Linked DNA regions of Homo sapiens. The protein of the gene in region 2 purifies or fractionates together with the protein of the main gene of each other region. This does not show direct contact. Each region holds a gene or a part of one and is shown on either strand. Other genes may lie near its edges.

The links. Proteins that work in one complex are often made in the same cells at the same time.
Region 1: the proteins of TRIM11 (region 2) and QKI purify together in Homo sapiens (affinity purification with mass spectrometry; 2 studies listed by BioGRID and IntAct, with this or other methods). This does not show direct contact.

What each region holds. Positions count from the first base shown.
Region 1 is NC_000006.12:163,529,470-163,537,225, reverse strand, and holds part of QKI (KH domain-containing RNA-binding protein QKI), read right to left. Parts: intron 2,245-7,756; coding exon 2,101-2,244; intron 1-2,100. UniProt on the Homo sapiens protein: RNA reader protein, which recognizes and binds specific RNAs, thereby regulating RNA metabolic processes, such as pre-mRNA splicing, circular RNA (circRNA) formation, mRNA export, mRNA stability and/or translation.
Region 2 is NC_000001.11:228,403,693-228,411,273, forward strand, and holds the start of TRIM11 (E3 ubiquitin-protein ligase TRIM11), read right to left. Parts: upstream 3,144-7,581; 5' UTR 2,870-3,143; coding exon 2,462-2,869; intron 1-2,461. Other genes in the region: E3 ubiquitin-protein ligase TRIM17, read right to left, coding at 4,509-5,059, 5,480-5,583, 5,697-5,719, 7,254-7,484.

The DNA.
Region 1 (7,756 bases), on a different chromosome or scaffold from region 2:
ATGCTCCAAACTTTCTTTTCCCCCCTAAGGGACAGGGTCTTATTCTGTCACCCAGGCTGGCGTACAGTGGTGCTATCATATAGCTCAACTTCTTGGCCTCAGCGATCCTTCCACATTAGCCTCCCAAGTAGCTGGGACTATAGGCATGTGCCACCAGGCCCAGCTACTTTTTAAATTTTTTGTATAAAGGGGTCTTGCTATGTTGCCCAGGCTGGTCTCGAACTCCTGACCTCAAATGATCCTCCCACCACAGCATCCCAAAGTGTTGGGATTATAGGCATGAGTCACCATGCTTGGCCATGTTCCAATCTCATAGATGAGAAAATGAAGACAGTTAAAAGTCACAAAGCTGGGATTCAAAAACCAGGAAGTGAGTTCTCAAAAATATGATGTATTCTGTCTCCCACATTTATTTAAGTAAAAACCCAAATCATTTGATGCTTCAGGAAAATTCAGTTATTTTATGCATTTCTATAGTGAAGATGAAGGAACTGATTTTACCTTATGACAAGATTCAATCATTTATTTTTCAATTTACTATGTTATTGCTATGTGCTGGGCTCTATGCTAAACACTAGAAATAAAAATGGTAAGCAAGACAAGAGATTACAGGTGACTGGGTAAATAGAAAATTTAAAAGACGCTAACAATATCCAGTTGATCCTCAAACAACAAGGGAGGGCTCGGTTGTCAGGGACACAGACTGCATCAAAGATCCTTGTGTAACTTTCAACTCTCCCAAAATGTGACGAATAGCCCACTGTCGTCTGGAAGCCTGACAGTTGATCAACATATATTTTGTATGTTTTATATGTTATATACCGTATTCTTACAATAAAGTAAGCTACAGAAAAGAAAATGTTATTAAAGCAGTAAAAGTCGATGTTAAATAACTTTTTCTGATCATGACACTAATTGCCCAGTATACTTTCGAAAATCTCCTTTTCTATACAGTTTTTCAATACCACACAATTAAGGAAAATGAGAAAGATTCCATGGTTTAATAGTACACAAATATAGATTTTAGTTTATATTTAACCTGATCATTAAAAAAAATAAAATCTACCAACAGAATTTACATAAAACTCTTTTATTCCAAGGAATTAATTTCATCAAGTTAATGGGAAATGTTTATGATTTGTGAGTTTACTTGTTGAATAAACTATCAGGGTAATAAAGAATAGGCTATCTGGGAAATAAAAAGCAGCAGGAACCATAACTCATTTATGTAAATGCCAATGCTTTTTGTTGGACACAATACTAACAGTATTCCTAGTTTTTTCTTTTCTTTTTTGAGACAGGGTCTCACTCTGTCACCCAGGCTGGAGTATAGTGGCGCAATCTCAGCTCACTGCAACCTCTGCCTCCCAGGCTCAGGCGATTCTCATGCCTCAGCCTCCCAAGTAGCTGGGATTACAGGTGCCTGCCATCACGCCCGACTTATTTTTTGTATTTTTAGTAGAGATGGGGTTTCACCATGTTGGCCAGGCTGGGCTCAAACTCCTGACCTCAGGTGATCCAACCGCCTCAGCCTCCCAAAGTGCTGGGATTACAGGCATGAGCCACCGCACCCAGCCCTAGTTTTTCCAATAGCAAATTAGGGTCCACATTTCCATATAGTTTTACTAATATAAGAAAAAAAAATTAATGGCCCAGAAAACCAGTAATTTATTTTTCATTTCCCGTTAAAAAAAAAAAAATTATACTCTGGGAGTAGTACAATTATTATTTCTAAAAATATTAAAGGGTTAAGAAACAATAAGGAGCCAACCCAAGGAAGGGGGGCAGAGGGAAGAGATGGGGGAAGAGATGGGGAAAGAGAAACCGGGAAGGAAGGAGAACTGATAACACAAAAGCATCTGGATAATTTCTTACGCGACGTCACCCTCCAAAACCCCTTTTAATGTCTATCTAAGGACCCCTAAATACGAACTTTATGTTTTTATTATGTTAGAAGTATCAGTCAGGTGTTTTTAATTTTATGCTTAAATAAAATTTCTAACAACCAATAACCTATTCCTTATAAACATTACGATAATTTAAAATAAACTGACAAAAAAGGACGAGGCCCAAATCTAAGGTCTGGAAATTATTACTTACTGCAGGTACCAATAATTTCTTCACTTCTTCAACTGCTCTCTTCAATTTGATTTCTGCTCTGTTCTGAGCATCTTCCACAGTGATTAGTACATGTAAATCTTCATTTAGATGCTCCCAATTGGGCTTGCCTCTATTTTGCTCCTCCTAAAAAATTTACAGAGTACATGATTAAAATTATTCTCTTTAAAGAGAGAGCACATCTTTCATAATACTAACCTGTTGTCAATTATTTCAGCTATGTTTGCATTATTTTGCTATGATGGCACAAGTCTTTGAATTATTTTTCTGGGTCCTCAAAGTTTGATTGAATGTGAGACTACTGGGTCAAATGATAATTAATCCAACAAGTATTTACTGAGCACTTACTATCTACCAGGCACAGAACCAGATGCTAAAGATCAGCCCCAAGCGTGCTCCTATGCACTAGAAGCATACATCATCATCATGTATGTAGTATCATACAACATACATCTGATACTGTCCTTACATTACCATGAAAAACACTTTGAGAAACATGTCATTATTTCTGCATTTTACTTATAAGTAAACAGAAGGTCATCAAGGTTAAGGGGGTCACCTCTCAATGTCACACAGCTAACAGGCTGTCAATTTAGGAACTGAATCAAAGTTTTCATTCTCTAATTCAGTGATCTTTCCACTTCATTACAACTGCTTTTAATGACATTGGTTGTATTCAGCATTAGAAAAGGTATTTTGCATATAGATGTTATTGTGTAAGATGACTACCACTTGTTTTAAGTATTTCATGCGGTAATTATGAAAATAGTTTTATCTACATTCCCATCAGACCATACCTTAAAATTAACTGTAAGGCTACTCTTTAATTATATCAAGTCATAAATACTAGTTTCATAGAGAATATCTATATTTCATTTCCTTAATGTCTTCTAGTAAGAAATATCCCCATGTTGAAAACCTGGTTAAGCTACAGGGAGGTTAAGTAGAGTTGGCATAATTTCAGAATCGCTGTTTTAAGTTTTAGAGAAAGTGTTTTTAAATAAAATAAGAATATATAAGTAGTATATAAATGGTAAATATAAATGCACCTGGCACACAGCAAGGTACCACAGACAAACAATAAATATCTGCTGTTTTTGGACCTTTATTTTAGAAGTTACTATTTACCTAATTGTTAGATTCCAGTAAAAGAAAATAAAGCAGGCATAATAAAACTGCTTTCTGCAACAATTCACATGATTGAGCTTAGCCAATAAGGCTAAAAATAAATTTTAACAGTAAATGCTTCTGCTTTATTTTTAATCAACACATCTTTAGGATGAAAATGCATCCACATATTGTAAGGGGATACAGGGAAAAAAAAAATCAGACACAATCCTATGCTGGGCCATCTATGTATTTCCAAAGAGTGAACTCTGAGTCAGCACAGCATTTTACAGGGGTACCATCTGTCCGACACTGTGTGAACCACCAGCTCAGAATATCTGACTGTTTCAACATAAGGTCACATTACATTCTTTTTGATGATGTCATATCTTTACAAAGCTAGGTTGTTAGCGGTTGCTGTAATAAAAATCAAGAACATACAAAAATCAATGTGGAACAAGAAAAGAGGGTGGCAGTACAAAAATCTGATTCCAAAGTTTGAGAATTTGAACAGCACCCAAGAAAATACAAATGCTATTAGTAAAAATGTGGTTATTTACAAATAAAATGTATAGTCTGTTTCAAAGTTGTTTGTAGAGTAAATATTTAATAAACAGAACTCTGAAATATTTCTTTTTGACTAGGGTACACCATGCAAACTAAGTGGGAAACCAAGGAGTCAATGAATCAAGAAACTGGAAACCTCAGGGTTATCTGTATGGCAAGAAATAAAATATGTATTAATATCTCTAACTGTGGCAAGAAAAATTAGTTTTGTTATCCAGATTTCAATTGTTATGTTCAAGAATGCTAACAGTATTTTCTCACCAAAATTTGTATTTTTTATTTATCTTTTTTTTTTTGGAGAGAGACCTACAAAAGCTACTAGTCTGGTATTATTTGGTGGGCCTAAAAGTGCACCTATTTGACTAAACGCATATATATGAGGGACTTCTGTTTCCAGGCAAGATATAGTAACAGGAACCAGATTCACCTTCCTGCTGAAACAACCAAAAAACTGGCAAAACGTATCAACAAGTTTCAAGCCACTGGACATCAGACAACTAAGGACAAATGACACAGAGTTGGGAACAACTGAGGTGAGCCTATAACTGCCCCCACTCACTGGCTTGAGAGTCTCCAGACAACTCCATGAGGAGACTAAGCAAGAGTCCAGGGAAACCGAGGCAGCCAAAGCTCAGAGAGTCCTGGGAGAGCTGCCACTCAAATATTCAGCTGAACCCTGATCGTTGCATACTTGAGAGAAAATTCCAGAGGCCAGGGAAGGAACCACCCAAAAGGATTCCAGGTCAAAGTGCCTGGCTCTAGAAAAGAACAAGACTGAAAGACTTGAAGGATTCCCCACGGGTAAGGGACACAGAAAGGTCTTGCCTCAGTGGTAGGAAAAAACTAAACCTAATCTAAGCATTGTTCCAGTACAACTAAATACATTTTAAAAGTAAGACCAAATGCCTTAAATTATTTCCAACTAACTTAACTGTGTCCCAGGACAAAGCTCAAAGATATTTATAGGAATATAAAAATATCCACCCAACAAGGTAAAAGTCTGGCATACAATTAGAAATTAACGGGCATGCAAAGCAGCAAGAAAAATGCAATACATGAGACCACCTCCCCCCCAATCAATTCACTCAAACCAATCTAGAAGTGATACAGATGTTATTATAAATAGACAAAGACATTAAAAGCTCTATGTGTGTGTGTCAAACACTAATGCATATAGATACTAATACAATGAAAACTGAGGAACATTTATAATCAAATATTTTTGAGAAAAGCTTAAGAATAAAAACTAAAATTTGACTTGCCGCAGAAACCTCTATACATGGAGAAAAGCCAGAGAATTTAAAAGGAATAATTATTTTCATGATAGAAACAAAGTTGCAGTATTATTTGCCATTTTGCTTTATTGCAAGAATACATTTTTAAGGTGTAAAACACTTGGCCAATGCGTACTCTTACTAATTCAACAACTTAAATGATAGTTAAAAATATAAAAATAGGAGAAAGCTACATCTACCCTGTTTGCTTCAAAATCAACATTTTTGCTTACACTTTTAAAAACAATTGAAGGAGCAAAAATTTTCAAAGATGGAGAAATTAATGGAATGGTGTACTTACACTCCCACCAAAAATTCTTCTACAACACTGCAGAGTTTAAAATGTACAAACTCAGCCGGGCACAGTGGCTCATGCCTGTAATCCCAGCACTTTGGGGGGGCCGAGGCAGGAAGACTGCTTGAGCCCAGGAGTTCAAGGCCAGCCTGGGGAACAGTCAGACCCTGTGTCTATTATAAATAAATAAATAAAATGTCCAAACTCGTAAGAAGTAAGAAAATGGGAAAGGAAACCATTTAAAAATTAAGAATCTAGAAAGCAGATGGTTAACTTAAAATTTACCTGACTCTAGTTAAGAAAGAAACTTATTTCCTTGCAATCCACCCCAAAAATACTGAGGAAATGGGCAGCAGTGAAAACAGGGGTGAGGGTGGGGCTGAGATTGCAGGACTAGATGAACTCTCATTAAAAAGCAGTTCAATTCCCATATCCCCTGTCCACAAATGGCTAGCTATCAAGCACTCCCTAATTCCCAGCAGTAGACCAGAAACTGATTCTGAAAGGAAGTAAAACACTTGCTCAAACTGCATTAGGAGAACAGTTGACAGGGTAACTTCCACTCTGACAGCTGGGCTGGCCGGCCATCTCCCCTGCTCCAAATGCAGAGCAAGGGAACCCAGGCCCACATCTTGGGGACAGGAGACTTGAACAACTGACCCTTCAGAGAGTTAATAAAAGACGCTACAATGCTGAAACAAGAATGCTCTATTTAAAAATTTTGAATACAAATAGAAACTCCTGCAACTAAAAACATGAGAGCAAAGATGAAAAATTTGATAGAAGGTTGGAAGACAAACTGAGGAACTCTCCAAGTAGCAAAAGACAGAGATAAAAAAAAATGGTGCAGAACTGTATAATATTAGAGGACTAGTCCAAGAGGTTCAGAAACTGAAATGACGATGTCCAACTACCAATATAAAGAAAAAGAAAGCAGAGGGAGAAAAATCATCAATGTTATATATTTTTCGCAAAACTGAGGGATCTGAGGTTCCAGATGAAAAGGACCCACTGAGTTTTCACCACAAGGAATAAATGAAGCGGACACTTCAAAATCAAACAATGTAGCAATTGAAAGTAAACACTAAAAGCACCTCTTTTAGTGTTTTGGAGGGGGTGCAGTGTGAAGAGAGAGACCGACCAACCCGTTTTCCACATCAGGCCTCAGAAAATCTTTCATCCATGTGCATATCAAATGTCACACAAAAAAAGGCTTTGAGGTCATGCTACGCAGAAGCCATGAAGCCATATTCATTCTACTGTAGTCCATTCCAGCTCAAGAAGAGTTAAATTCCTTCAGTGAGTTTGCAGCTTAGTAATTATTTAATACAAATACTATTTCTCCCTGTGATCTCATTCTGTTTCTTAAGCAGATTATAAAGGCAATCTGGGATTGGCAAATTTTATAGAGAAATCAATAAAACACACCCCAAAAGGTCCTCTTTTAGTCATTAAGGATAGATGCAATTATAGGATGGTTACTTCTGAACTTAAAATATCCATAGTAAGAATCCACTCACAAAACCCATTTTCTCACTTAAATACATCAGGACAAAGAAAAGGTTGAAATAAGCAGACAGGAGGGATGATGATATGGACGCACACCAAAAATGCTGTATTTATTAGAAACTGTGTTCTACGAGGCATTCGTTTCTTTTTACAATTATGTTTCAAACAATCTTTCAGGGGTTAATAGCTGAGATACTGATGTGGAAAAAAATAGCTCATGACTACTATAATGTCTGTTTTACAGTTACCATTTGCAATATCATTTCATAATATATGTGCTACTAAATCTTCAGCAACATAGAAGAACACAGTTTTGCATCAATATAATCCCAAATTTACATTTTCCAGCACAGTACTGCCCCCTGATTTCTAGACCTCCAAATTCAACTGCCAACTAGAAATGTATACTTCAATCTCTAAAGCAGTCTGAACTCCACATGTCCAAACTGGGGTTCATACCTCCCTGCTGCAAATCTGTCCACAATTAATGTCTCAGCTATTACTCATCCTGAATGAATTTTCTGAATCAGCGTGGATTTTTAGAATTTGAGGCTTTGTAGGAAATCTCTGAAACACAGTCATGGCTTACTTGTGCTTTGACAGAGACTGGCTGCTGCACATGCACCCATTCACATCTATCCACACTAATCTGAAGTGCCGTGTTCATTCACTTCCCACGATAGGCTCAGATTTACTCCATGCTGTATTACTGGCCATTCCCCAAACATGGATTTTGACACCCATAAGTTTATGGAAGCTATCTATCGCCTATGTCTAGAATGCCTCCTTTCCCTTTCTTTAATATTTACTTTTATTTCTTTTTTTTCTGTATTATATAGTAACTTAGTTATCTGTGCATTGTCTTTTTCTAGCTATTAGAAAGTTT
Region 2 (7,581 bases):
CCCCCAAGCTGGAGTGCAGTGGCACGATCTCGGCTCACTGCAACCTCTGCCTCCTGTGTTCAAGTGATTCTTCTGCCTCAGCCCCCTGAGTAGCTGGGATTACAGGTGCCCATCACCACACCCAGCTAATTTTTGTATTTTTTGTACAGATGGGATTTCACCATGTTGGCCAGGGTGGTCTCAAACTCCTGACCTCAGGTGATCCGCCCACCTCGGCCTCCCAAATTGCTGGGATTACAGGCGTGAGCCACCACACCTGGCCAACGTTTTCAGTTTTCAACACTAAGGTTACAAACAGCATTTGATCAGATGGAATGGGCTGTAAAGCAGCACAACATACCCAGCATGGCAAAGATCTTGCATTTCAGGTACCTGCATCTTTGTGTCTCTGGCCAGATCAGAACAGAAACCTCTTACCCTGCGTGTAGTCAGAACTGGGATGCTGGGGCTTGGTGCAGGCCTGGGATCTTCCCTGGCCTCCTCCTTCCTGTGGCAAACCCCCTCCCCACACAAGTGCCATCTGACACACAACCCAGAGAGATCTGGGGGCCATCTTCTCTCTCCCATGGTGCTGCTTCCTGGAACTGGAGCTTACTGGGACTTCCCTGTTTACCACCTCGGGGCAACCCAGCCTGGGGCTTGTTCAGCTGTCATGACCCCAGGTCAGGGCCAGGCAAGGAGTGAACCTGTCATGGAGCTAATGGGCCCCAGCTCTGGCAAGTGGACACACAGCCCCATAGGTGGGACTGAGCTTTCTAGGCCCATGGGGGCAGGTAAAAGCAGTTTGCTGTGGTTAACATAACCTAGGCTCTAAGGCAGTGAAGAACAGGATGTCATCCCCAAATATACCGCTGTGGTACAAGAATTATTCTGAGTAAAAGCAGATGCAGGAAGAGCTCTCTGTACTCCTATCTGCCTAAAAGTAGGGTATTCATTCCCCATGAGAAAGGCACCCTCTCTCTACCAGGAAGAGGAGGGCACTCTAATCCTGGGAGATGATTCTGCCTAAACAGACCTTACTACAATGACCATTATCTTGTGTTAATTCTTCCCATCTATTTCCTAGTCACTTTCCCACAATTTATCAGTCCTAGACGCCCAATCCCATTTCTGTGTCCAGTCACTTCTCCACAATTCACAAACCTTTGCTGAAATACGCTTTTCTATGAAGTTCTTGTGCATGTGAAACTTAAAATATTAATCAAATTGTATGATTTTTTTTCCTGTTAATTTGTCTTGTGCCAGTTTAATTTGCAGCCCTGAGCCACTGAACCTAACAGGGTAGAGGGAAATTTTTTTCTTCACCTGCAAAAGAAAGGGTTAAGTGCTATCCCATGAAACTATATCGAGTCAACTCTATAGAGCTATTGGGCACTCTCTGCACCCATTGGGGTAATTGGTGTCACAAGGGTAATTCTGCTGGGCTAACATGTTTCAGGTGTAGACATTCCTGCATGGGCAAAGAAAAGAAAACCCAAATGAATCTGTGTCTGAACAAGCCCACGGATATGGCTCTAAACCACCTTTCTGCTAAAATCCAAAGCAGAAGGGGACAGATTCAGATTTATTCTAGTATCCCAGAAGTTTGCTCTGTGATAGGGACAGATCAAGCTCAGTACTGATTCTAACACTGCCTTAACTGCTCATCTGGCACACACAAGTGACCATGATGCAACACACAAAGTGCAATCAAGAAAGCTCCAAAGATGCTGCCATCTGCCCCACACGTAGGCTCCCAGGAGCACACCTGCAGCAGGTCAGCGAGGAAAGAGGACAGCGGGAGGGAGCGCAGGCCAGGGAACGTGTGCCCCAGGCCCTTCAGCTCGGGTTTTATTTGGGTTTTAAGCAGCAAGACAAGGGGAGAAAAGGCAGGCTGAGCCCTGGCATCTCAGATGGCAGAGATGGCTCCCAGTACCCCACCCAGAAATGCAGGGCAGCCCTGGAGGGGAGGTTAGAGAGGAAACGACTGTGTCCCCCTCATCCTGCCCAGTCTGGGGCTTTCCCAGGACTTAAGTACTGACCTGCTAACACAGTCCCTGCAGGGAGTCCATCTAGGATCGGCCACCTCTGAGGTTCTCCCACTTTCCTCTGATTCCAGCTCCTTGCTGGCCAGGGTATGGCCACATTTTCCTTGCCCCCACTCCACCACCTTCCACCTTCCACCTTCCTCTCTTAGCCTCTATCTATGAGAGGTACGCCCCTCACCCCCGAGAGCAGGGTCTCATTGGCGGCCATGGTCCCAGCCTCAAGGGGCCTGGTTGAAACAGGCTGTGTCATGAGCCCCCACAGCCACCCTGCGCGACACCCCCCTCACAGGCCCACAGCAGGCTGCATCCTGAGCTCCCCGCCCTAGACAGAGACAGATTACTCCCGGAGCAGTCCCCCAAACCTCCCACCCGCCCAGGCCTCCCCAGTCCCCGGCTCCCCGACGCCCCTGCACGCCACCCCCGCCCAGGAGCACCTTGAGGTCTTCGGCCGCGTCCTGCAGCGGCCGCACGCGGTGCGCCCAGTGCTCCCCAGAGCGCTCGCAGGCCGCACACAGGAGGCGCAGCTCGTCGCCACAGAAGGCGGCCAGTGGCTCGCGGTGCGCGGGGCACACGCCCTGCGGGACCGGCGACGGCGGGTGCAGGCGCCGCGCCATCTCGGCCATCTTAGCAAGCGGGCGGTTGGGCCGCAGGTTCCTCTGCGGGGACAGCTCGCGGCACTCGGGGCACGCGTACGGGCCCTCGGGCTGGCCCCAGCAGCGCCGGATGCACTCGCGGCAGAAGTTGTGGCCGCAGTCGGTCATCACCGGATCCGTGAAGTAGTCGAGGCAGATGGCGCAGGTGGCCTCCTCCTGGAGGTTGGTGGACAGGTCGGGGGCGGCCATGGCGCGGACAGAGGGGAGGAAGGCGGTACTGTCCGCGGGGCGGCGGCGGGCGGCCTCGGCAGCTCGCGGGGACGCGGGGTATCCGGGTGCGGCGGCGCAGGCTCGGGCACTCCGGGGCGCGAGGCTCGGGACTCCCGGGTGCTCGGGCTCCGGGGCGCGGGGACTCCAGGGCGCAGGACTCTGGGTTTCGGTAGCGCTGGGCGCGTAGGCTCCGAGCGCTCGGGGGACGCGGGACGTAGGGATCCCGGATGCCGGCAGGAAGAGGAGCCGAGGCGGAAGCAGGAAGCGACTGGGTGGGTTTTGTGTGTTTTTTTTTTTTTTTTTTTTTTTTTTTTTTTTTTTTTGGAACAACCCGCTTTTGCCTCCGATTGGCCGCTGCCAGTCACGCGGCCCGCGGGCGGGACGGAATTGGAGAGCTTTCACTTGCTGACCTGGCGTCACCACCGCTCCGGTTCTTGTGGCCAGGTCTTTTACCCCTGCCCTGGGGAGGACTCAGGCGCAGGGGAGGGATGGGGACAGGGGGCGGGGCGCAGGGGAGGGATGGGGACAGGGGGCGGGGCGCAGGGGAGGGATGGAGCAGGGGGCAGGGCAAGGAGGGATGGGGACTCAGGGCGGGGCACACGGAAGCAACTGCAAGGACTAAGGGAGTCCGCAGCCTGGGGCATTGGAGCCCTTCGCCATACCCCTAGTGCGTCCTCACCCCCTCAGCCCGTGCTTCCCAGGGCGGGTATCCTCGGAAGGCCCGGCCCTCACAGCCTTGGCAGGCCAAGGTCAGAATGATTGGAGTTGGGGGATGGGACGGGGGCATCCCTCCAGGACCAGCTCTCCAGGAGGCCCACATTCTTTCTGCGGGAACCACTCCAAAGGGGCATGCTGTTCCAGGCAGCCCCTCGCGCAGACACTCCGGCTTTGTCGAGGTAGGAGTACGCTTACTCTGGAATTCTGCCTTGCTAGTGACTGACACAGGCTGTTAAAGTGCTTGACCCTGCAGGGGTGGGTGGGGGGTTCCTTGGAAAAGGTAAGGGCGCTGTGGAAAAGAGGCCCCTACATAAATCCTAATCTCTTTGGGATTTTGCCCCTGCTCGTGCAACTTTGGGGATCGAACGGGATGGGGGTGGGCAGCTCTGAGGCTTTTTACGGGTTCAGCCTTTCCCATTTTCCCCCATCGAAGGACCCAATAGGATGCATAGGACATTTCTATGGGCAGCCTGGGACCATCCCTGACACAGCAACCACCCCCGCTCCTCCCCACCATAGGATATTTCTACTTCTTTGACAGAGTAACCTAAACCCCTGGGGGGGCTGGGAGCCACAGATTCCTGTCATTCCAAAGTGGGGGTGGGGGCATGGCTAAAAAAAACGTGACCACGCTGTTCCTGGTGTGTAGGTATGGATTTAGAAATCGGTCCACTCAGAACGCAGGGGCTTTCAAAAGTTTCCTCTAGGAAGCATCTGTCAGTATACCCTCTTAATGTTTGACAGTTCTAATCACAATTATATTTAGAATTTGAGAAACCCCCCTGTGTGTCTAATGGCTGCCAGCGTGATGCCAGAGAACCCTGGCAGGTGGCCTGCAGTAAGCAGAAGGCCCACACCTTCTGCAGAGCCAGGAGCAGTGCCCGAGTCCCCCGGTCTGTGTCTATCCTTTCACCCACATGGTCACTGTGGAGATGACCATCTGACCAGACTTCGGAGCCCCCAGGCAGAAGAAAGGCTGCAGGGGGCCTGGGAAGGTGGCCTGGGAGTAGGTGTGCAGGTGGGACCCATCGCTTACACTGTAGAAGGACACTTCCCCGGCTTCGAAGTCCAGGAAGATGCCCATGTGGCTGGGAGGCTCCATCAGCATGACCGGGGTTAGGGCAGAGAAGGTGGATAAGTACTTGGTCCCCTTGGACAGCTGCACCACCCAGAAGCCGTTTTCGGGGCACTTGGGGACCCTGTCTTTCCGGCTCACGTTGTCCCTGCACACACCCAGGGCCCACAACGCGTCCCCGGTGATGTTCATGCCCACCTCCCAGTAGTGCCTCCCAGAGGAGAAGGCCGTCTGGCCCACAGCACAGGGGTAAGCCACAAATCGGTCCTTGCTGCAGAACCCACTGCCCTCCGGCGAAGAGCCGAGGTAGCGCCTCTGGCGGCTCTCATACAGGAGGAGGTAGGGGTACGCGGAGGTGGCATCAGGCACCACATCCTCTGTAGATGGGCGTGGTGGTGGAGAGATGGGGAGAGGTGTGGGGCATTCAGGGTCAAAGGTGGGAGTCCCCGGGCCCTAGTGGTGGATGTGGCCAATGGTCCCCTAACTCCGCAGAGGCCTCCCCTGCTGTGAATCTGGGGTTACTTGATGCTTCCACACACCAATTGTGTGTGGGCCTTGGTGGCAATAAGGTACAGGGGGCTGGGCAGAGAGACCACTGGGAACTCAACAAGATTCATCCCATGAATTAGAACCACCAGTAACGCCGCCCTACGAAGGCACAGTGAATAGCCAGTGACCGTCACCAGGCAGTGCACTTGTAGAACCCCCCCCATTGGTGGCTTCCGAGGCTAGGGGGTACAGTGGGGCATCGCCAAGAGATCCTGGGTCAGAGGTCCTGGCCCTGGGTGCCCACTTACCTAGAAAGCCTCTTAGCACTTCAATCTGTCCGGGAACTCTGCACACAGTCCTGGGTCTGGTTGGGGGGGCAACCTCTGGGCACTGCACACTCACGTTGTTCTTCCTCCGGTGGGCACACACAGGGGAGTCTTATTGACTCCCCTGGCCCGACAGTCTTATTGTCCCCCCCGCCCACCGCTGCCACTGCCCCCGCCCCTGCCTGAGGGGACCACATACCTGCTCAGGGGTTCCTTCATGTCCTGCAAAAGACAGGGACGGAGGGTGGGGAGTGAGCCAAGCTCCTGGCTCACCTCAATGTCCCTGCTCCCTTCTTGTCCGTGTCTTAGGGCAAGACCCATCCTGTCCCCTGGGCATTCCCTTCCCACAATTGAGCTTCATGGCACTCCTGAGCCTTCCCCACTGCCCTAGCTCCCACTACCACCAGAGCCCCCAGTGCCTCACCTAAGCTGAGCTACCCTGTCAGCCCACGGCCACACGCCTGAGGTCCTGCAACTCAGGAGAGGCGGAGGGACCCCTTCCAGGCAAGTGGCCACTCAACACTGACCCTCCTCTCCCATTTCAGGTGGGTGCAGCCCACTCAGCAGGAATGGGGTGGGGGCGCAATTGGGTGCAGTTTGGGGAGGGAGGGGGGTGGGTAAGAGACTGAGGCACCTGGGGATTTTCTGTAGCCTCTTTAGGGATTCAGAGTTCCCTAAAGAGATCACTGTTTACTTCTCTGGCCTGGAAGCTACAAGGGACTTGTTTTCCAAAGGCCATATTTCTAGTTGCCAGAGCGTGACCCTAACTCTAGGCAGGGACTCTCATGCAGGTGGCGCGCTTGGCCCTCTGCTCATAGGAGCACCCTTCTACCAGCTGCAGGGGCTTTTCCCTCAGTTGGTCAGCAAACCAATGTAGTGGGTTGTGAACAGGCTGCTTTGTTTTTCCTTTTCCTTTTTTTTTTTTTTCCTAGATGTGATCTCACCATCACCCAGGGTGGAGTGCAGTGGCGCAATAGCTCACTACAGCCTTGAACTCACGGGCTCAAGCAGTCTTCCTGCCTCAGCCTCCTGAGTCCTGGGACCACAGGCGCACGCCACCATGCCCTGCTAATATTTTTAAGTTTTTGTAGAGATGGCGTCTTATCAGCCGTAATCAAGCCCCCTCTCCAGGGCCATGGCACACAGGCTGGTCCCGGCAGACAGGCTGGCTGCTTCACCTCCCCACTGCCGTTGCCACACAACTCACTCCTGGGACAGTGCACCTCCTCCACACCGAGACATGGAGTCCCTGTCCCAAAGCCACACCTGGCTGCCAGGTGTCCCAAGCCACCTCTCTGGACTTGGAAGGAAATGGGGACACTGTCTCAGGTTGGAACCTGTAAGGGGCTGACTTGTGTCCCCACTAATTCACAGGTTGAAGCCTGAACCCTCAGGACCTCAGAATGTGACTGTGTTTGGAGATAGCATCTTTAAGGAGGGAGTTGAGGTCACTGGGGTGGGCCCTAATCCAGTCTGACTGGTGTCTTTATACAAGGAGATGATTAGGACAGAGACGTGCATAGAGAGATGATGCCATGAGGACGCGGGGAGGAGACGGCATCTTCAGGCCTAGGAGAGAGGCTCAGGAGGAACCAGGCCTGCCCGCACCTTGGCCTCAGCCACCCAGCCTCCAGGACTAGCAGACTGGGAGCTAACAGCCCTTTCCCGTTGGCTGCCTCTTCCCCAAGCCCAGCGCCCCCTGCCCATGCCTGTCAGAGCTCACATCCCACCCTGCCTGCCAAGCCTACTGGCTCACCTGCAGCATCTGGAGGGGCCCCTGTGTGCTCCGCTCCTCCAGCTGCAGCAGCAGCAGCTCCAGAGAGTGACCCTGCCGGTCCAGGCAGGCCACGCTCTCCCGGAGCCTGCTGGCAGTCTCCTCTTCTTCCGTCTCCAGAGCCTGGAGGAGCCTCTGCTCTTCTTCCACCAGGTAGAGGTTCATCTTCTCAAACTCCAGCACAATGCGTTCTCTCCGCTCCTTCACCTTGCCCTGCAGGAGTGGAGAAGCCCAGCATGTTGCCAGCAGGTGGCTCAGCTCCAGGGATGCTGGCACCTCTCCCCAGGGCCCTGGTGACCCACAAGATCAC